2 linked regions of the Homo sapiens genome follow. The protein of the gene in region 1 purifies or fractionates together with the protein of each later gene. This does not show direct contact. Each region holds a gene or a part of one and is shown on either strand. Other genes may lie near its edges.

The links.
Region 2: the proteins of REEP1 (region 1) and NCAM1 purify together in Homo sapiens (affinity purification with mass spectrometry; 2 studies listed by BioGRID and IntAct, with this or other methods). This does not show direct contact.

Annotation. Positions count from the first base shown.
Region 1 is NC_000002.12:86,227,558-86,238,034, forward strand, and holds part of REEP1 (receptor expression-enhancing protein 1), read right to left. Parts: intron 5,246-10,477; coding exon 5,068-5,245; intron 1-5,067.
Region 2 is NC_000011.10:112,955,034-112,965,676, forward strand, and holds the start of NCAM1 (neural cell adhesion molecule 1 isoform 2 precursor), read left to right. Parts: upstream 1-6,386; 5' UTR 6,387-6,579; coding exon 6,580-6,631; intron 6,632-8,176; exon of another isoform or gene 8,177-8,427; intron 8,428-10,643.

The sequences.
Region 1 (10,477 bases):
AGAGTCATCTCAGATTCAGTTTCTGCTCAGGTGCAGAAGATACCCTCACCTGGCACACAAAGTCAGTCCTTGCACCCTGCAGCCCTAGGGAAGGCCGGAGACAGAGTCAAAGTTCCCTCTGGAAAATAACTCCAAGCACCCCTGCCCAAAGCCTCCTCCTCTCTTTGCTTTCCAGTTCAGAATGTCCTCCAGGAAACCTCCCCAGACTTACCTCTGAACCCCAAAGTGCTTCGCATCTGGGCATTTGCAAAGGCCTAACTGGCTGCTGCCTTGTACACGCCATTGGTCTTGGTGCACATCTGGGCCTTGGCAATAGAGTAGGTGCTCACTAAATACATGCTCACTGAGTGACTCCAAGTCCATGGAAGGCCAGGATCATTCTTTCAACATTTCTTGTACACTTCCTGGTGTCCAGTGCTAGGCATTCAGCATATGGTATCTGACTACACACCTTCCAGCTCATTCTGCAGGGAGGGCCATGTCAGTCCCTGCCTGCCCTGACCCTTTAAGCAAAGAGGAAAACTCCAGGCAAGAGAGAGGGTCAGGCCAAGTACACTGCCCAGCCCCATCCTGGGTGCTGAAAGCAACAGGAAAGAACTCTCCTTCCCCTTCTCCAACGCCTAGACCCTGTGTCCTCACTGCACATACAGAGGTCTCTGTGTGCCAGGCATGTGGTGAGTATGTTGGGTAGGCATTTACAGAGGGAAGCACAGAACCCTTGTCTGCCTGCCAGGAGCTTGCAGCGCTGAGTGACCGTGCAGGGACAGTCTTTGTGCCCCTTCCTCCCTTCCTCGTTTGTGTGCATCTTCCTCCCTTTTCTCAAGATGCAGGAGGTCACATGGATGTCCCTTCTTGGCTCACAGCAAATGGTCCACACTGGTTCATGGGATCCCCTTCACTTTTTTTTTTTTTTTTAATGAGACAGAGTTTCACTCTTGTTGCCCAGGCTGGAGTGCAATGGCATGATCTCAGCTCACCGCAACCTCTGCCTCCCGGGTTCAAGCAATTCTCCAGCCTCAGCCTCCCGAGTAGCTGGGATTACAGGCACCCGCCTTCACGCCCAGCTAATTTTGTATTTTTAGTAGAGACAGGGTTTCTCTGTGTTGGTCAGGCTGGTCTCAAACTCTCTACCTCAGGTGATCCACCCGCCTTGGCCTCCCAAAGTGCTGGGATTACAGGCGTGAGTCACCGCGCCTGGCAACCCTTTTTATGTGCCTTTACATGACTTTTATTCCCACACCCCACTCACATTCTCCTTCCTCCTCAAGGAGTGTCACTTTTAATATTTTAATGTGCAACTTTTTGTTTGAACATGTTCTTCATATAAACTCCGTATTGTTACTTTGCATGATAGGCATATATTTTTTACATAAATTGTTAGATAAAATCTCATTCTGTTTTGCACTTTTCTTCACCTGGCATCATGCTTTCAAGTTCCACTGTGTGCACCCTTAATCTGTTGCTTCCAGCAGCTGCAGAGAATTCCACGAGGTGCAGCTCCCACCTCTCTCCAGGTTGTCTTCAACCCCTGCCACCTGTCCAGGGTTTGCAAATTCTCTGGTTTGCTCTCCTCACAACCCTAAGACATAGGCTGAATAGGGACTATTCGGTCTTTTTTACAAAGAAGAAAGCCTGAGGGAATCAGGTCTGTCCTCTGTGCCAAGGCCAAATCTATGGTAGCGACTGCCTGGGTTGTTCTGAGAGAAGTTCTGAGGCTGAATTGAGGCTCAGGAGGAAGGAGCATGCCTTGCTGTGCTGCATTTGCTGTGTCTGCACAGGCCCGGCATCACCCAGCCAGGATGAAGTCTAGCCTCTTCCCCTTTTCTGGGGCCCTTTCTGCTACCTGATCTGGCCTGGCATCTGAGGCCCACACTGGGGGCTGAGCTGGGGAGAGTACACCAGCCCGGTATAAATTGGCTTCCTCTGCCAGACTTCCTCCTAGGCATGTTGACCTTACTTCAGGGTATGATAGCCCAAGAGCCTCTGACCCAGGAAATTCTGCCCCATATCCACGCCCCAGGCCATCTTTCACCTGTCTTCCTTTTTTTTTTTTTTTTTTTTTTTTTTTAAAGATGGAGTTTCACTCTTGTTGCCCAGACTGGAGTGCAATGGTGCAATCTCATCTCACTGCAACCTCCGCCTCCCCGATTCAAGCGATTCTCCTGCCTCAGCTACTCCATGAGTAGCTGGGATTACAGGCATGCACCACCACGCCTGGCTAATTTTGTGTTTTTAGTAGAGACGGGGTTTCTCCATGTTGGTCAGGCTGGTCTTGAACTCCCGACCTCTGGTGATCCACCCTCCTCAGCCTCCCAAAGTGCTGGGATTACAGGCGTGAACCACTACACCCAGCTCCTGTCTTCCTTTTTGAGATGGCTTTTATTTTAGGCTCCAGAACAGCTGGAAAGAGCACTACACTGTCCTTGGCCTCCCTGCTGGGTTGCACCTTTCCTCTTTGCCCCCTGTGGTCATAGGTGCGGAGGCCAAGGGGGCCAGCAGTGAGGAGGGCTGGGGCATAATGCAGCACAGCTGGTCCTCTCAGCCTGGGACAGCCAGAACACTCCCCACTGCCTCCCTGGGGCATGGCAGGGGACGTCATCACCTCTGCTCATGGAGAGTGGCAGAGCCAGTGCCAAAGCAAATCATCCCAAATGCTTTTCTACCTGATGCTGGGCTGGGAAGATACTCCAGGCCCAGAAGACACTGCCATCTCCCTGCAGACCCTGCCAGCTTCTTGCATTCCCAGTTCTGAGGCTGCCCTGAATAATTCACCAGGGGAGGTCTAGGCAGGAGGCCTGGATTCTGGGCCTGGGGGCCTCAGCCCAGTGCACAACCTCTCTGAGCCTGCTTCCTCCACTGGGCTCACCTCTAAAATGGCAACACAGACTCTTAGAGGCAAAGGGACGCCAGGGCCACCTAAGCCCGCTTCCTAGCCAAAGCAGGAATCCCTCCCTCGAACCTGACCATCCAGCTTTGGCTTGTGTCCTTCCAATGTCAGGGACCTCACTACCTCCCAAGATGGCCCATTTTGCTCCTGGACACTTGCAGCATGACAATGCGCCTTCTCAGGAGAGACAAATTACAAAAAGAACAATGATAACAGCTACTATGCACTGGCGCCAGGCATGGCCATAAGCACTTTCACATGGCTGGTTTCATTTGAAGCCTCACAACAACTCTACAAAGGGGTGTCATTCCTTGTGTAGATAAGAAATCTAGGGTGCAGAGATGGTAAATAGCTCGCCCGGGTCATGCGGCGAGCAAGTGGCTACCCCCTTCGAACTTCACCCCACTGGTTCTTGCTCTCTGCCCTCTGGGTTTTACTGAATTGAGGCCCCTTTTCCATCTAAGGGGCAGCTTTCATCTGAGGCTTGGTAGATGATGAGCTGATGCAGTGTGGAGATGAGACTTAACTCTGTTTTGTATCCCTATTTCTGGGGCAGTGTCCGGCAGATCAGAAGCTGTAGATGCTTGACAAAGCCTGGATGGTTGATGAGTGAGTGACCATGGGCACTGGCCCCGGAGTCAGAAGGCCACGCTCTACTGCAGCCCAGCATGGGTGACCCTGCACAGTCCCCTTCTCTGGACCTCTGTCTCTTCACCAGTAAAATCACTGGGTTTGACTGAAAGATCCCTGAGGTCATTTCCTGTCTGGCCTTTTGGGATTCCATTCCTGGGGGGGGGTCCCTCGGGGGGTAACCCCTCCCTGAGGTGGCCATCACCCCCACAGCCGAGCCTCCACCTCCCCAACCCTGCCCTGCTTCCAGCAGTGACAGGGTTAAAACATCTCCCAACAGAAAAGCCACAGTCTTAAGACCTGCGAAGGGCCAAGGGGACACTGCTGAGAGGGAGGAAATGGACGGAGCCCTGAGCTGCACTTGGCTCTGAGCATGAGTTGCCATTCCCAGGCAGCCGCAGGCCTCATGCCTTCCTGTTGATGGCTAAGACCCCCGGGCATCAGATGGGGTCTGTCAGGACATGGGGCTTATGGCCAAGGTGTCCCCTGCAGGCTGCATAGTCACAGGTGGCCAGACATCTCTGTTTATAGATTTAAGGGCCACGCAGTCACCAGACAGACATTGTGGACATAGATTCCCACCCTTCTCACCACAGCGAGGCAGAAGTGGTGATCCAGAACCGTCCCCCACCCCCCCACCATCAGTCCTGGGCAGCTGCTGTGCTCAGCCCCTGAGACCCAAGGCCCCTGGCATCCTCCCAAGGAGCAGCCTGGGAAACTGTGTGCCCCCACCCTCCATGAGCCTGAAACCCGTGCTGGTGGATCCGATGTCGGGGGGTCCCAAACACGGCTGCATCTCAATGAAAATCACACTTCTGGGTCTCACCCCAGACCTACTGAAGCCTCTGCGGATGGGCCCAGGACTTTGCATGTTTAACGAGGTCCCCAGGTCAGTCCCAATACCAGCAATCCCACGATGGGCGTGTGACACCAGAGTCAGACATTGGAGGCAGAGGTGTGGTTACTGTAAGGTCCTGGTCACCACAGGAACAAGAACTCAGAGCTAGCATGGCCCTTGGTATGCAGAGGCTGGGGGTGGTGTGAGGTACATGAGAGGTCAGAGATGAGAAGGAGACAGCAGAGTGAGAGAGAGGACAGGCAATATTCAGGCAGGGAAGAGGGCCCGTGAGAGCAGTAAGCCCCGGGTGAGAAGACAACACTTAGGTATCAACAGGTATGCCTCCCCGGAGTCTGAGAAGACAACACAGAAGGCTCCCGGGGCCCAGGTCCAGTTGTGCCTGCTGCCTCCAGGCTTTGCCTAGACACTAGCCCCCAACTACCCCCAATTCCCCAGACAATCATATGGAGGAAAGGGGACCCTTTGGTGCAGGTGACCTAGCCCTGTCCCTGATCAGTCACCAGGCTGGTTTCCTGGCCGGGCCTGAGGGGTGCTCCGCCCCTTGGCTGACCTGGCATGATCTGATGGACACCCCGTTGGTGGCAGGTCCGTGGGGCCAGGGCCAGGCTGCATGCCACACTGCGGACTGGGCCTCTCTCAATGAAAGCGAGGCCCAAGGAGTGGGAAAGAGGGGAAGTAAAGTGACACCTACCTGAGCTGCTAGCGCTCTCAGAAGCACTCCTGGACATCTTAGGCTGGCCGTGTTTGCCGCTGGCCCGCCCAGACCCCGGTGGTGGGGGGCCCGAGGGAGCAGGGGCGCCGTCTCCCCTGATGGTGGTGAGGTCCTGCATGCTGAAGCTCCGCAGTCTCTCCGATAAGGCACCCTGTCCCTGGATACAACACAGGAGGGGCACACGTCAGAGGTCCTGCTCCACAGGTCACACTCGACAAAGGCCAAGAGGGAGCTCTGATGGTCAGCCAGGTGGAAATCAAGACCTGGATCAACTCTGAGGCGCAGGTGCCCAGACATAGCTGCTGGAAACACAGAGAGGGTCAAATCCCGGAATTTTCCAGGGCCTCCTCTGGGGCTCAGTAATTGCTCCTTTGGCTCCAGGATCCCTCCCTACCCTCAGACACCACTATGATGATACGATGATACGATGATGATCCGGAGCCTCAGACAGACCCAGGGCCAAGGGCGTGACTACTGCCTGCAGCTCCTACTCCTTCCAGGCCACCTGCTGCTTCTCTTGCTTTGCATAAATAAAAATCCACATGTATCTCCATTTTTCTCAGTACATGAGAATCTGGTCAGGCAATCAAAACCTAATATTCTATGTGCTTGGTTCTTATTATTTTCAAAGGACACAAAATACAGACAATATTTTTCTAAATGTTTGACAACAGAAATTTCTTTTATTTGTATAGCATATTACTGTCTACGAGGCACATTTACTTCTGCTGGTGCATTTCAGCTTCATAAAATACCCAAAAGGTAATGAATCAGAAAGGAAAAAAATGATTTAAAAAAACCCTGCTGATTGTAACCATTTCATATTCTGAGGGAGACAGAGAATTAATCTCGGGGGGAATTGTTCTTTTATTTAGAAAGCAAGATCAATCCATTTTACTTACGAAAGAGCAGCTCCTCACTGTCTGGATGAGAGAATGTGTCAGAGTGAAAATGATCACAGTGAAGGCTCAGGGATGGTGGCATTGCTTTAAGTGTGCCTCAGGGGCTGCAGAGAGAGGTTATGGAAACCTGAGAGTGGGAGGAGACTGGGGAAATTGAGAATCGGCTAGGATTTGGAGCAAGAAGTGACAGGCAAGTAACTACCAGGCAAATGAATGAACTCAGACATCTTCAGAAAGAAGAAAGCCTGGAGGGTGTGCAGGGTTCCCTCGGGTGCATGGCACTGCAGTGGCATGGGAGAGGTTTTCTATGCCACTTGGATAATGAAGGAAAGAGTGGTCCCAGAGATCTGGGGGACAGGGGGACAATACTGCACAACAGACATAACAGAACCAACAAATCAGCACAAAATCAATTCAAGCCGCTGACAAGAGGGCTGCTGGTGGGATTGATGAAATAAGCAAGGGCCAAAACAGTTGAGTAAGAGGTTTTCAGGGGTGAGAGAAGGGTTTGGAAGATTTTTTTCATTTTACTTAATATAAAAAATAATGAAAATGAACCAACAAAGCACAGCAATTCGCTGAAGTGAAAAATCCAGATAGGATCAAGGAGCAGACGCAAAATGAGTTCATTAGAGGGGAGGGGGAAAAAAAGGGGCTTGCAGTCAGGTTTAGAAGAAACGCCAGAAGAGGGCAGGCGTGGTGGCTCATGCCTGTAATCCCAGTACTTTGGGAGGCTGAGGCAGGAGGATTGCTTGAGTCCAGGAGTTCGAGACCAGCCTGGGCAACAAGCGAGACCCTGTATCTACAAAAAATTTTAAAAACTAGCTGGGCATGGTGGTATATGTCTGTAGTTCCGGCTACTCGGGACACTGAGGTGGGAGGACCGCCTGAGCCCAAGAGGTAGAGCCTGCAGTGAGCCGGGATCATACCACTGCACTCTAGTCTGGGCAACAGAGTGAGGCCCTGTCTCAAAAAAATAAAAAGAAAGAAAGAAGTGCCAGACTAAAAGCAAGATGCACTAAAATATGAACTAGATCTGTTCCCAACCTACCAAAGATATAAAAACCATGTCACCAGGAAACCAACAACAATAACACAAAGAAAACTATTTAAAAAGAATTGTAAGTCCAGGCCAAGAAGTATTTGGAGGATATTATATGAAAAAAGACAGAAATCACCCTGGTTGCCTCAGACACTGCTCTAGAGTGATGGTTGGGCAAGGGTCCAAGGTCTCACGTCCTTGGCAGGAACAGCTGGGTGGTCTCTGCCAGCAAAATGGAGGCTGGACCAGCCAGACACCCATTATATAACCCCTTCAAATATAGCAGCCAATGATCCATGATTATTTTACGCAGAAACATTCTAGGCAGCATCTAGAATTTAGAAGAAATTTGATGACTAAGGAACAAAACTTGATTCTGAAATGAGTGAGAAAATATTCTGCTAATTATAAGTGAGTAACTCAATGTTAGGTTAGTGTTCAAGCAAACTGTTCACTGACTCACTCTTTCATTCATCCTCTCATTTCTTCGTTTACTTTACTTGTTCAACAATTACCAAGTACTTTTTATGGGCAAGAACATGGTGCTAGGTGCTAACATGAAACACCAAAAATACAGTTTGATTTCTGAGAAAGCGGAGAACGACAAATGTACAGATACAACACAGAAGTATCCTAGCAGAAGCTACAGAAAGTGAAGATTGAGAACAGCAGTTCTTGAGTCAGGCCTTGATTCAAATTCCAGCCCTGTCATTCAACAGCTGAGTGATCTTAACCTCTCTCCACCTCAAGACCTTCATTTGCAGAAGAGGATCCAAATGGCCGGCTGCTCGTGCGGATTCAATGAGATTACATCCTTAAGATACCCATCACATAGCCCATTGCATATTTAGTCTTCAAAAATGTCAACTATGATGATAATGATGTTGATGCTGTGGCTACTGCCTAAGATACAAAGGTTGCTATTGAAAGCTATTGAAAGCTGCCTAAGACACAAAGGTTGCTATTGAAAGCAGAGGTGGAAAAGGTCACTTCCTAAGCTTCATGACCCCAAGCCCAAATAAACGGCCAGGGACGAATTCCCTCAACACAGTTTGCCAGTTCTTGCTCATTGTCGCTCAGCAACATATGTGAGAGAAAGCAACAGCAGGCATCGTACACGTTCATTTTAGCAAAGTGCTCCATTCAACTCCCAGAAGCCAGCCAGTCTAGCTCCAATATCACACTGGCAGTGGCAGAGGTTAGGAAAGAGAGGGAGATAATAATAGCTCAGTATCAACCTAGGCCTGTGTCAGAGGAAATTATAGTGGCATAGATACAAGACTCCTGAAAACAAATTAGCCCTTGCCCATCAAAACACTCTGAGATGGTTAAAATCAGTATGCCTGACCGGGCGCGGTGGTTCACGCCTGTAATCCCAGCACTTTGGGAGGCCGAGGCAGGTGGATCACTTGAGGTCAGGAGTTTGAGACCAGGCTGACCAACATGGTGAAACCCCATCTCTACTAAAAATATAAAATTAGCCAGGCGTGGTGGTGCACGCCTGTAATCTCAGCTACTTGGGAGGCTGAGGCAGGAGAATCTTTTGAACCCGGGAGGTGGAGGTTGCAGTGAGCCAAGATCATGCCATTGCACTCCAGCCTGGGCAACAAGAGCAAAAACTTCATCTCAAAAAAAAAAAAAATCAACATGCCTCTCTCTTTTGTAAACCTTTCAGCCCTTCTCAGTCTCTACACAAAATCTCATTCCTATTCACTTTCCACAAACCCCATTCCACACTGTCTGTTCAGCTCCGCTCTGCAGAATCTTTGTTATTCTAGACCATTGTCTTCTGGGAAGAACCACGAGTTGTTCATTGGTATTCTGCAAAATTGGTTTCCCTACTTTGGGGAAATAAATTTGGATTCTCTAAATTTGGAAAGCATTAATACCATATTCCCCATAATTCCATGAGCCACATTATCATACTAAAAGCTCTGAGAAGGCCCATCTGGTGGTGCATGCCTGCAATCCCAGCACTTTGGAGGATGAGGGGGGAGGATTTCTGGAGCCCAGGAGTTCAAGACCAGCCCGGGCAACATAGGTAGATCCCGTTTCTATTTTTAAAATTTAAAAAGACATCGCTAAGTCACCAGAATAATAATGACAACACCCACCTACTCCTAGACTTCTTGAAAATGATTTTCATCAATTTTTTTTTTTTTTTCGAGATGGAGTCTCACTCTGTCGCCCAGGCTGGAGTGCAGTGGTGCAATCTCGGCTCACTGCAACTCCGCCTCCCGCGTTCACGCATTCTCTTGCCTCAACCTCCAGAGTAGCTGGGACAACAGGTGCCCGCCACCACGCCTGGCTAATTTTTTGTATTTTTAGTAGAGACGGGGTTTCACCGTGTTAGCCAGGATGGTCTCGATCTCCTGACCTCGTAATCCGCCCGCCTTGGCCTCCCAAAGTGCTGGGATTACAGGCGTGAGCCACCGCGCCCAGCAGATTTTCATCAATTTTAAGACGTATTTTTCATCTCTGAAATTGGGGTGGGTCTTACAATTGCTGCCGCCCTGACATCATTGTCAACGCCTACACATAGATATACTTGGTTGTTATTCTCCCTGGCATAACTGGACAACTGAAGCCCCTGAGTGTTTAATTAACAAACCATTTAAGAACTGTTTGAGAAAGGAATATGAATCTCAGTTGTCTAACACATATCTCACTGACACTTTCTGGTATGATCAAGAAAGTGGCAGCATCAAAACTGGCATGAATGAAAATCCCAGAAACAACAGCTCGACATCACCCAACACACTAGAAGGAACAGAGAATGATATGGCATGGTCATAAGTGGATACTGACACGCCGAGCTGAAAAGTGATTCGGGAGACTCTGAAAGTGAAAAAGTGAGGTTAGAGAGATCTTAACCACTTATTGTGCTAATGCGTTCCTTTTTATTTTCTTTCTCTCTTTTTGTTTTTTCTGTTGTTGTTGTTGTTTGTTTGAGATGGAGTTTCACTCTTGTCAGCCAGGCTGGAGTGCAATGGCACAATCTTGGCTCACTGCAACCTCTGCCTCCCAGGTTCAAAAGATTCTTCTGTCTCAGACTCCTGAGTAGCTGGGATCACAGGTGGCCACCACCACGCCCGGCTAATTTTTGTATTTTTAGTAGAGACGGGGTTTCACCTTATTGGTCAGGCTGGTCTCGAACTCCTGACCTCAGGTGATCCACCCACCTTGGTCTCCCAAAGTGCTGGAACAGGTGTGAGCCACCGTGCCCAGCTGTGTTCCTTTTAATGTATTTATAAAAGTGACAAAAAAAAGATGTCTAAGAGTCTTTTTGATAAGAAGAAATAAACATTCTGGCTGGGCGCAGTGGCTCATGCCTGTAATCCCAGCACTTTGGAAGGCCAAGGTGAGTGGATCACCTGAGGTCGGGAGTTTGAGACCAGCCTGTCCAACATGGAGAAACTCCATCTCTACTAAAAATACAAAATTA
Region 2 (10,643 bases), on another chromosome or scaffold:
GTGTAGTTACCATATGATTCAGAAATTCTACTTCTGGATATATATACCAAAAAGAAGTGAAAACAGAGACTCGCACAGATATTTGTATACTCATGTTCATAGCAACATTAGTCACAATAGCCAAAAGGTGGATGCAACCAAGTCACCATCAATAGATGAACGGATAAAGAAAATGTGGTACACACATACAATGAAATATTATTTAGCCCCAAAAAGGGAATAAATTATTACATGTTACAACATGGATGAGCCATGAAAACATTATGGTAAGTGAAAGTAACTGTTCACAAAAGGATAAATACTGTATGATTCTCCTTATTCCACGTACCTAGAGTAGTCAAGTTTATAGAGACAGGAAGTGGAATGGTGGCTGCTAGGGGCTGGGCAGGAGAAGGGAATAGAGAATTACTGTTTCATGTGTACGGAGTCTCAGCTGGGGAAGATGAAAAAGCTCTGGAGATGAATGATAGTGATGGTTGCACAACAATGTAAATATGCTTGATGTCACAGAACTGTACATATTAAATGGTAAATTTTATGTCATGCGTGTTTTATATTTTCCCACAATAAAACAAAAGAAAAGAAAAAAACCTGACGATATAATTGTCTACCTAGAAAACCCTAAAGACTACTACAAAATCTCATAGAACTGATAAAAGAATTCAGCAAAGTTTCCTGATACAAAATTAATGTACACAAATCAGTAGCTCTCCTATACACCACCAGCAACCAAGCTGAGAATCAAATCAAGATCTCAACTCCTTTTACAATAGCTGCAAAAAAAGTAATAATACTTAGGAGTATACCTAACCAAGGAGGTGAAAGACCTCTACAAGGAAAACTACAAAACACTGCTGAAAGAAATCATAGCTGACACAAACAAATGGAAACACATCCCATGCTCATGGATGGGTAGAATCAATATTGTGAAAATGGCCGTACTGCCAAAAAAAATCTACAAATTCAATGCAATTCCCATCAAAATACCACCATCATTCTTCACAGAACTAGGAAAAAACAATCCTAAAATTCATATGGAACCCAAAAGGAGCCCGCATAGTCAAAGCAAGGCTAAACCAAATTTACTATTTTGAAGTATAGCTAAAATCATGTAGTGGGGACTATGCTAAGCTGTTCAAAGCCCCCCTTCAGGGCTGGAGGGCTTACTCCAGATGCTGGGGATGCCCTCCTTCAGCTGAAAAGAATGACCTCTCACAAGGCCAGGTTGCATTCTTGGGGTGGCTTGAATCGGGTGATCAGTCAATATGAGGATATTACAACTATTTTCAGACCTCTCAAGGTGGGGCTGAGGTTTTGTGGTGCCTGCCCTGAGGCCCAATTTCCTCTTCTTTATTAGTAACCTGTTTATTTCCCTTCCCACACAGATGTTGATCCTGAAAGTAATTCCTAATAAACTTTCTGCACAATTAAAAAAAAAAAGGGAAATGAAAACAGCACCTCTTCCTTGATGCTTTACTTCCACTGATGCCAGAAAAAAATCATCATAACAACTGCATAAATATATGATGGGTGGGATTTGCAAAACACCCCTTGAAGCTGTGCAGTGCACAACCCACACAAAGGAGCACTGGTTCTATGTCAACCTCTGTCTCATTTCTCCCGCGTTTGGGAGTCCCCAGCACCATTGAGCTGGATTGACTGATGAGTGCCCGCTAGTCTTTAACCAGTGCCTGAGCCAGCCTTGAACAGGGAGGAAGCACATCAGTTGCCCCAGCCCCGCCATGGGTTAGAGTTTGTAAGTAATTTCTCACGTCAATCAGATTTGGAACATGAGAAGCTAAGAGTGAGCTGGGAGGGTCCCGAGAGACTTTCACTCTTTAGCTTTGTGGGCTCAAGTTTACCTCCTGGTCCTTACACTTTCCTGGCTCATGCTCAGTTCTTTGGATAAGCCAGAGAATAAATAGATTAAGTTGGACTTTCTCAAAATTAAAAATGTTACTATATGGAAAAAACACTATAAACAGAGTGAAAAGGCAACCCATGGAATAGGAAAATATTTTCAAATCATATATCTGATGAGAGATTGGTATCTACCACATATAAAGAATTCCTATGACTTAACAATAACAGAACAAACAACCCAGTAAAACAAACAAACAAACAAACAAACAAAAACGGGAAGAAGATTTTCAGCCTCTCTTAGCCTCAGGTCTTAAGTTGTCTTAAGACCTGTCTCTTGTGTTGGTCTTAAGATGCTGTGCTTCTCAGACTCCATTTTGCCTGTATCAATAGTGAAATAAAGTTCTTAGGGTATCTGTGAGTCCTAAGATCAAACCTGGGGTCTCCATTGTCAATAACAATAGGAAAGAAGCTCTAAATTAGGGCACTATTCCAAGTTCATTTTTCAAGTTGTGTAAGTCAAGCTAGTGCATAAGGTCTTGGTGGTGCTGAGCAAGAGTTAACACCAATTTAACTTACTTTATAACCTGATAATAAAGTCCTCACATTAAAAGAGAAGAAAAGAAAACTGTCTTTTAAGCCTCCTTCTCCCACAAGCTTGCCTCCCTGCCATTATCCCACTACTCCTTCAACATCACACTGCTGGAGAGAGTAGTCCACACCCCTGGCTTCTCTCTCCTCCCCTCCCTTTCATTTCTGGGACCATGATGTCTCCTTTTCCCTCCATTCCATGAATACTGTTCCCCCAGGGGCCACTAAGGACTTTCCAATGGTCAAATTCAGGAAATTCTTTTAAATCTTCCTCTTTTTTGACCACCTCAAAGCTTTCTTCTTTAGGTTTTGTGACATTGTCATGTTTCAATTTTCTTTCTAGCTGTCTGTTTTTCAGTATTTCATTGATAAGTCCTTCTGCCTGTACCTTAAACATTGATGTTCTCTGGGCCCTCTCTGTCTGTCTTCCACACATTTCCACTTGGATGTCTCTGAAACATCTCAGACTTAGCATGTGCAGAGCTGACATCATTGCTTCTTTGCTTATCACCTGGTCTGAATCTGCCCCTCTTCTTCTGCTCCCTGTCAATGTTACCAGCAACTATTCAATTGCCCACACTGGACCCTTAGCGGTTGTCACTTTCTCAAGATCTGTATCACATACACCCGTATAGCTCCACTAAACAAAATGGTAATCCCTCTCCGCCCCAGACTCTCTGTCCCCTTATCTCTCCTTATTGCTTTCCTTAGCACTTATCACCATCTGTACACTACTAAATGTTTAAGGATTTATTCTCTGTCTTCCCCCATAAGAAGGAAATCCCATGAGGGCAAAGGCTCTACTTTGTCCACGGCTACATCCCCAGTGTCCAGAGCAGTGCCAGGCACTTAGTTGAGAATCCATAAATATTTGTTGAATGAATGAAAGGAACTTGGATTTCTTCCTCTGCCTCATACTTCCATCTTCACAACATACCCAGGTCCACCTGTTCTTATCTTATCTTGGAATTGCAAATCTGGGCTCCTTTTTGCCTCCTTTCCCACTGTCGCTTTCTTAATTAGTCCCTGTCACCCTATCCAGAGCTATCATGGCCTCCTAGCTTGTCTCCTTGCCATGGCTGTCTTCTTGGACCATTCTCTGCTTCCTCTCTAAAGAACTTTCTCTCTAAAGCACAGTCTGGAGTCTCCTTCCTCTGCCTCAATCCCATGGATGTTCACTTTGTAGATGCTCATTAATGTGTGCCTGACAGCCTGGGCCTCTCTCTGGGGAGAGAGGTCCAGTGAGGGCCACAGTTTTGTCCATTTTAAAATGAGGATCAGGAAGGGATTGAAACGCAACAGAGCTCACAGATGTAGGCACCGACTAGCGGAGATATACAGAATTGGAGACAAGTGACATATCCTGTTAAAAGAATTTGGGAGTGATACTGGGAGTGTGGACTGGAATGACTGGGGCAGCATTCTAGAATGAATCATTACAACAGAGATCAACAACCACACGGGGTAGGGAGGGGCTGGAGAGAGAGAGGGAAAAAAAAGAAATTCAGTCATACTCAAGTGAGATTGGATTTCCACACTTGCCTACATTGAAAAGCTAAAAATAGGGACATTTGGGGAGAAAAATAGTGAGGAGTCTTTTAATTCTACTGACAGGACTATAAGGAGGGAGGTTTGCAGGGAAGAATGTGTCTCTCACTCTTAGGGGCAAAATTGGAAAAATTTTTATTTTGGGGGCCCCAACCTTCACTCTCCCCACTCTACCCCCTGCCTGTTCTCTCTATCTTTCCTCACCATCAAAACCTCTTTTTTAAGGAAAGAGTCTGATAACATTCATTTACATAAATCTGTAATATTTAATGTGGTGATTTTAGATGTTAGAAGCAGAAGTCTGAAATCAAAGACACTTAAATACAGCAACCATTAAAAAAAGACGTATATAATTCACTGCATCTAGCACAGGGCTAAACCCAGTGGTTGCTCCGCAAATATTTGTTGAAAGATGTTCAAAAAAGCCTTATTTATATTATCAAACTCCACAAACAATATAAATATGCAAAAATGGGGAAACCATTGCAAAATCATCCATATGAAGAAATATTACATAGCTATAAAAATATCTAGAAAAGCTTTTTAATGATCCAGAGGAATAAATGCTTATACTGATGTTAGGCAAAATCAGCAGGATTCAAATTGCTACTATAATATGTCAATTATAAAAATCATATGCACATACAGAAGACAAAATCTATGAGTATCTCTGGAATCTGTGGGATTTGGGGTTATTTTTAGTTCTTTCTACTTTTCTGTACTTTTGAATTGTTTATACTTGGAATGAGAGAAATAGCCCAAAGTAAACGTTGTGGAAGATTTACTTGGGGGAAGAAATACTTTTCAGGGGTCCAAGCTAATTACACTGTACTGGTGTGGCCCACTTGGTCTATTATAGAGGAGGAAAGTGGGGAAGAGATGGGGCCTGTCCAATAAGGATGGATGTCCTGACAGTAGAGGATGGACTTTTAAAAACTGCTACAGCGGCTGGGTGCGGTAGCTCACGGCTGTAATCCTAGCACTTTGGGAGGCTGAGGTGGGCAGATCACGAGGTCAGGAGTTCGAGACCGGCCTGACCAACATGGTGAAACACCGTCTCTACTAAAAATACAAAAATTAGCTGGGCGTGGTGGCGCGCGCCTGTAATCCCAGCTACTCAGGAGGCTGAGGCAGCAGAATCGCTTGAACCGGGAGCAGAGGTTGCAGTGAGCAGAGATGGCGCCACTGCACTGCAGCCTGGGCGACAGAGCGAGGCTCCATCTCAAAAAAACAAAACAGAAACAAAACAAAACAAAACAAAACAAAAAACCTGCTACAGGAGTGGGGAGGCCGACCTTTGAAGAAAAACGGAGTACCCGGTAACATTAGTGCTTTAATGCCTTTGAACTTATGCAGACTTCCTCTGTTAGAGGGTTTCAGTGTTCTAGGCTAATGGGTTAACCTGACATCTAGAACACCTTTCTCACATTAGTTCCTTACATACCCAAGCCTTCAGGTGCTGAGACATGATTCTTTTCACCCCGCTTTCTCCACCCCCTACTTTTGAAAACACGGGTGGAATTTTAATTAAAGCCTATTGTGTTGGTACCTCAGTAATATTATACATTAATATCTTTAAGAATTAAGGTCACGTCCCCATGTAAGAAAATATTATTTAATGACGCTTCTATATCATAATACCTATATAAAAGCCTGGCTATTTTAATAAAGAGACCACAGATTTCAGAATTTATAAACAGGAAAACATTTTCTTCGGGTTATTTCTGGAAATCTCTTCCAAACATCGGAGTTTTCTTCTAACTTAAGTCTCTTCCCACCTCCTTCCCAGGGGATCTGCTGAAGGGTGTTGTATGTCTCTCTGTGGGAGAGCAAACTTCACAGTTAGGATAAAACAAACAAACAAACAATATCCAAACAACACCCAGCAACGGCAACCCCCATCCCTCTCCAAAGTTCTAATTTCCCGCACTTAAAGTCCTGGGCTATCCTTGTGTTGCAAGGATCTTAGAATCGAAATGGAGGGATTTGACAACTTTACCTAACCAAATCTAAAATTTTGCTTTTATTATTTACTAGTTATCAAAATATGCAAACTGCTGATTAAGGAAGGCTGGGTAGCAGGAGCGCCTGCGAAGGCGTAGGGTAGAAGTGTGAAAAGAAATCCCAGCTCTCCCAGGGAGACTGCGTGTGAAAGAGCCCGGCTCCCCCAAAAGCTCCAGGCCGCGTTTTGCAGGCTTCCGCATCTGCCTCCCCTGTCTCTCTTACCTCCTTGATGTTCGGCACTATTTGTGGCCGGCGTGGTGGAAGGACACAGTGAGGTTCTCACCCCCGCCCCCCGCTCCTCGCTCCCATCCCAGTTCCATCAAAACGAACCCGGGCCAGCGCAAGGATCTCCGAGTTGCGAGTGTGCTGAGGCTGGGACTGTCACTCATTCTCCGATCAGCGCGTGAACGCAGCTCGGCTGCCGCTGGCAGGAAACAATTCTGCAAAAATAATCATACTCAGCCTGGCAATTGTCTGCCCCTAGGTCTGTCGCTCAGCCGCCGTCCACACTCGCTGCAGGGGGGGGGGCACAGAATTTACCGCGGCAAGAACATCCCTCCCAGCCAGCAGATTACAATGCTGCAAACTAAGGATCTCATCTGGACTTTGTTTTTCCTGGGAACTGCAGGTACATTTTTTTTTTTTTTAATTCTCAATCTGGTTTGCTAATTACCCCTTCCTCCTACTCCTAGGAGGAACGCTATTATTTTGGGTGGTTTTACGTGGACTGCTAAGGCTGGTCATTTTCGTTTAGCTGTGAAAGGAGCGCGTCGCCCTTGCTGCCCAGCCGAACCCCGCTCCCTCCAGGGCTGCGCTGCACGGGGCTGCCTCCCCGAGCCGCCAGCGCCCGGCGCCCCTCCGGCGCGTCCGCCCTTCCCACTTTGTGCGCCCGCGGCGGTGGGAGCAGAGCCGGCCGGCTCCTGGGGACTCAGCGGCCGCGCTGGTGATGGGCAGCGCTCCTTCCCCAAAGGCGGGCGGCGGGGCGGGGGAGGTCGCGGCTCGGGTGGTGCCGCCGCACGGGCTCGGATTCCGAGGGGGAAGTGGCTTGTCAGCCCCGGCTCCGGGAAGAGTGAACAATAAGGCTAGGGCAGCCGCCCCAGATCGTTATATTCCTGGGTCTAATAAAGTCAGGATCGCTGCTTTGCTTCCCCCGCCCCAGAAGAATAACGGTTTGCAAAATGGGGCAAAATGGGCAGAATCGCACGGCCGTTGTTGTTGGTGTGACCGTTGTTGCACCCCAGTCGACATGACGTTAGTTTTTCATTTGCCAAATTGCTGGTTAGTTGCAAAGCCTACCCTCGGCCGCGAGCACTGAAGGATGGGAGGGTCGAGCGCCGCGTTTTGACAGGAGGAAGTGCGGAGGGGCGGAGGGCGAGGAGGGCGTGATTGGGGCTGCCTGGTGTGTGCGCGCGCGTGTGCGCGCGTGTGTCTTTACACGCGCCGCGTGCCCAGTGTTGCACGGGGCGGGAGAAGAATGGCAGGTAGCCGCCCGAAACACCTCGCCCTGTCTCCTTTCTTTGGGCGAGGTTCCCGATCCTGGCAAAGTGTGAACAATAGGGAGCTGGGAGGAAGACAGTAGTGATGCTGCCGCGGGTGGCGGGGGTTGCGCCGCCGCCCAGAGAACCTCGGCAGTGTGCAGGGAGGTGCATTTCATTTTGGCTATTTCCATCCCGGCCTCCCTGGAAAATTCTTCTGTGCGTGCCCACCCTCCCCTCCAGCTGTCATCCCCCCACCTCCACCCAAGGATTTGCGCTTTGGCTCTGATGGACGGGAGGGAAGGAAGAAAAGCAGGGGCCGCAGAGAGCTGGGTGGGTTGGGCGGACATTCTGGGCGGGGGGCGTGTGCTGGGAAGCGATCGAGGAAAGCCGGGCGGAGGGGCTGTGTGTCGCGGTCGCAGCTCCAGGTACCGTTGTACCTGCCCTGGACGGCCGACCCCCGGTTGGGGAGCGCACGGGGCGGGCCAGGGAGCACCCAGTGCGCCCCCTCCGCGGGCGGCACAAGAGCAGCGCTCGGCCGCCGCCTCCAGCCAACTCGGGTCCCTCCCACGGCGACCAATCAGTGCGAAGCTGGCTGGGCGGGAAGCCGCGAGAGGCTTTTATTGCGGCGCGGGTGGCGGCCAGGAGCTGCCAGGACAGTCTCCCGGTGCTTCAGCCTAACGGTCTCGCTCACTCACCGCCAAGAGAAACCCCGCCCTGCGGCCGGTCCCCCGCCTGCCCGGCAGTTTCCGAGGAAATAAAATGGAGACTAGGTGGTCACCGGGAGTGCTCCTGGTCCGGCCGCCCGTGCTCGCCCACTCTCGCCTCTTTCACGCCGACTTGGAGCATCCCACCGCCCCCGCCAGCGCTCACTCTCGCGCCGCGGAATCCGGGCCTGAGCGCGTCGCCGGGGAGGGCATCCTGGCAGGCACACCTACGCGCGTGCGCTGACCGGCCGACCGCGGGCCGGGGGCTCTACTGACGGCGGGGCGGGGCCGTGGCAGGGCCCGGAGAGGAGGGGTGGGGACCAAGCCTAGTCCGCCTGGCCCTGGGTCTCCGCTGCCACCTGGGCGGGGGCCACCCCGGTTATGCCCCTTTCCGCGGTGCCCGTGGGTGCCGCGACGCGACCTGTCCACATGGGGCGGGGGAAGGGGGGTGTTTTTGAGACATCCTCGCCCCCGGGTGGGAGCGTGACAATGGAGCCCGGATATTTGGTGGGCCTTTTGGGGGATCGCCTGGCGGTCCTTTCCATCATCGTGATGGGTACAGTCATCAGTATTTGGATCCCGTGGAAGTTGCAGGCCCAGGAATTCCCACTGGGATGTTCCTGGATGCCCAGGCAGGGGAGGCATTCTAACCAGTGTTCCCTGGAATGAAAGCGACCTCTTTCCTGGCCCGGTACCTTGAGGATGGGAAGAAGGCAGAACGTGAAACACATACAAGGTTGCTTAACAAAAGAAAGAAGTTGAATGGTTTTCCAAAGAGAAATAATTTCCCATTAAAATGTCTTTTGTACCATAGTTTTTTTTTAAAAAAATCAAAGAATTCAAGTCAAAGGGTTAGAATGAAAATGAAAACATAACAACAAGTATATATACATATGTATATATATCTGAGGTTTTTTTTTTGTTTTTTTTTTTTTTGTTTTTTTTTTGGACTCAAATGTAGCATGTCCAGGGCAGTGGTAACTGAGTTTGTGTGCTCGGCTGGGTGCATATGAAAATTTACATATAAGGCAAGCTAACCTTAATACGTCAAGTGAGTCCGATGGGCTGCCCCTCTCCTCTTTCTGTGTCCTCTGCTCTTTAGAAATACAATGAAAGGTTGTGCAATTGCATAGTAAATTTGAGTTTATTCTAGTATAAATTTTGGATGTTTTGAAGAATTGTTCGCTTGAACGATCTGGAATGGTTAAGTCACATGTTTACTTGATAATTTTGCAGTCTTCTGCCAGTTAAACTTGCAAGAGTCAAGGAATGGATAGGACTGGGTTTCTAACAAGATACCATCGGTTAAGAACAAAGAGCTACTTTACAAAAGCTAACATTGAAATCAAGTAGTATATATAATATCTCTCACTAAGCAAATTAAGGTGCGCTTCCACAAAGTTGACTGTGAGCACAGTTATAGTGAGCCATATATTTTTGTTGATTTTCATTTGAAGACTGAGAATGTGTGTTTTTAAACAGAATTTCACTGAATGTAATAAAGGCTATATAAGAATGTGGAAAACCTTTCACAACTCTAACCAAACCCTAGAAAGATTATTTTCTTTCAATAAATACTAGCATATTTAGAAATATTAATAACTGATAATTTGTTTTAAATCCAACAGAGTTATTAAAAACAGGGAATATAATCCAGACATTGTAGACGTGTGGGCTATGATTTATGTAAGTTTTTGAGTTACTATTCCCTCTATAAAGGTCTTAAAGATCTGCTAACCTAGCTAAGCTTCCATTAGTCTTTAACTGTTTTCTTAAGTTAATGCTTTATGAACGCCCTCTTTCTTTCCCTAAATTGTTGAACCTGATAACTTCCTTCCAGATACCTTTATCTAGGATTTTTTTTTTAAAAATGGAATACCAGAAAATAGCAGGACATATTCTTGTTTAGTAAAGGAGTTTCCTCTAAGTCTTACAATGATAATTGATTAAACTAAGAATATGTTGATTTAACTGGTGACTGGTTTCTTGAGTTTGATAGTTCAAGAATTAAGATAGTAATTGCAAAGAAAAAAAAATCCCACATCAAAACTGAAAAAAAAATGATGTGGGTGTGCTATTTGTAAGGGATGTGGGTGTTTACTGAAGGCAGCAATAAGAAGGAGAAATTAGTCTGTAGCACCCCCAAATTCCAAGTTTTGAACAGTGCTTCTGTTTGGAATCCATTTATCATTAATTGAATTCCTCAGATAGGTAATATGTAATTTAATGGAAGTAACCTATATCTGTATTTTTCTGTCACAAGGAACAATGTCTTAATTGCCTTTCAAAGTAAACAGCACCATTTTGTCACTCAAAAGCTAATCTTTAGACATGTTTTTGTTCACTACAGAACCCAGTTTCTCAAATTATAGAGAGCATTTTGTAAAATTTACACTGCTTAAATAATGGACTCTGGAATTTCTGATGCAACCACTTAATTTTTCAAGGTGATGAAGCC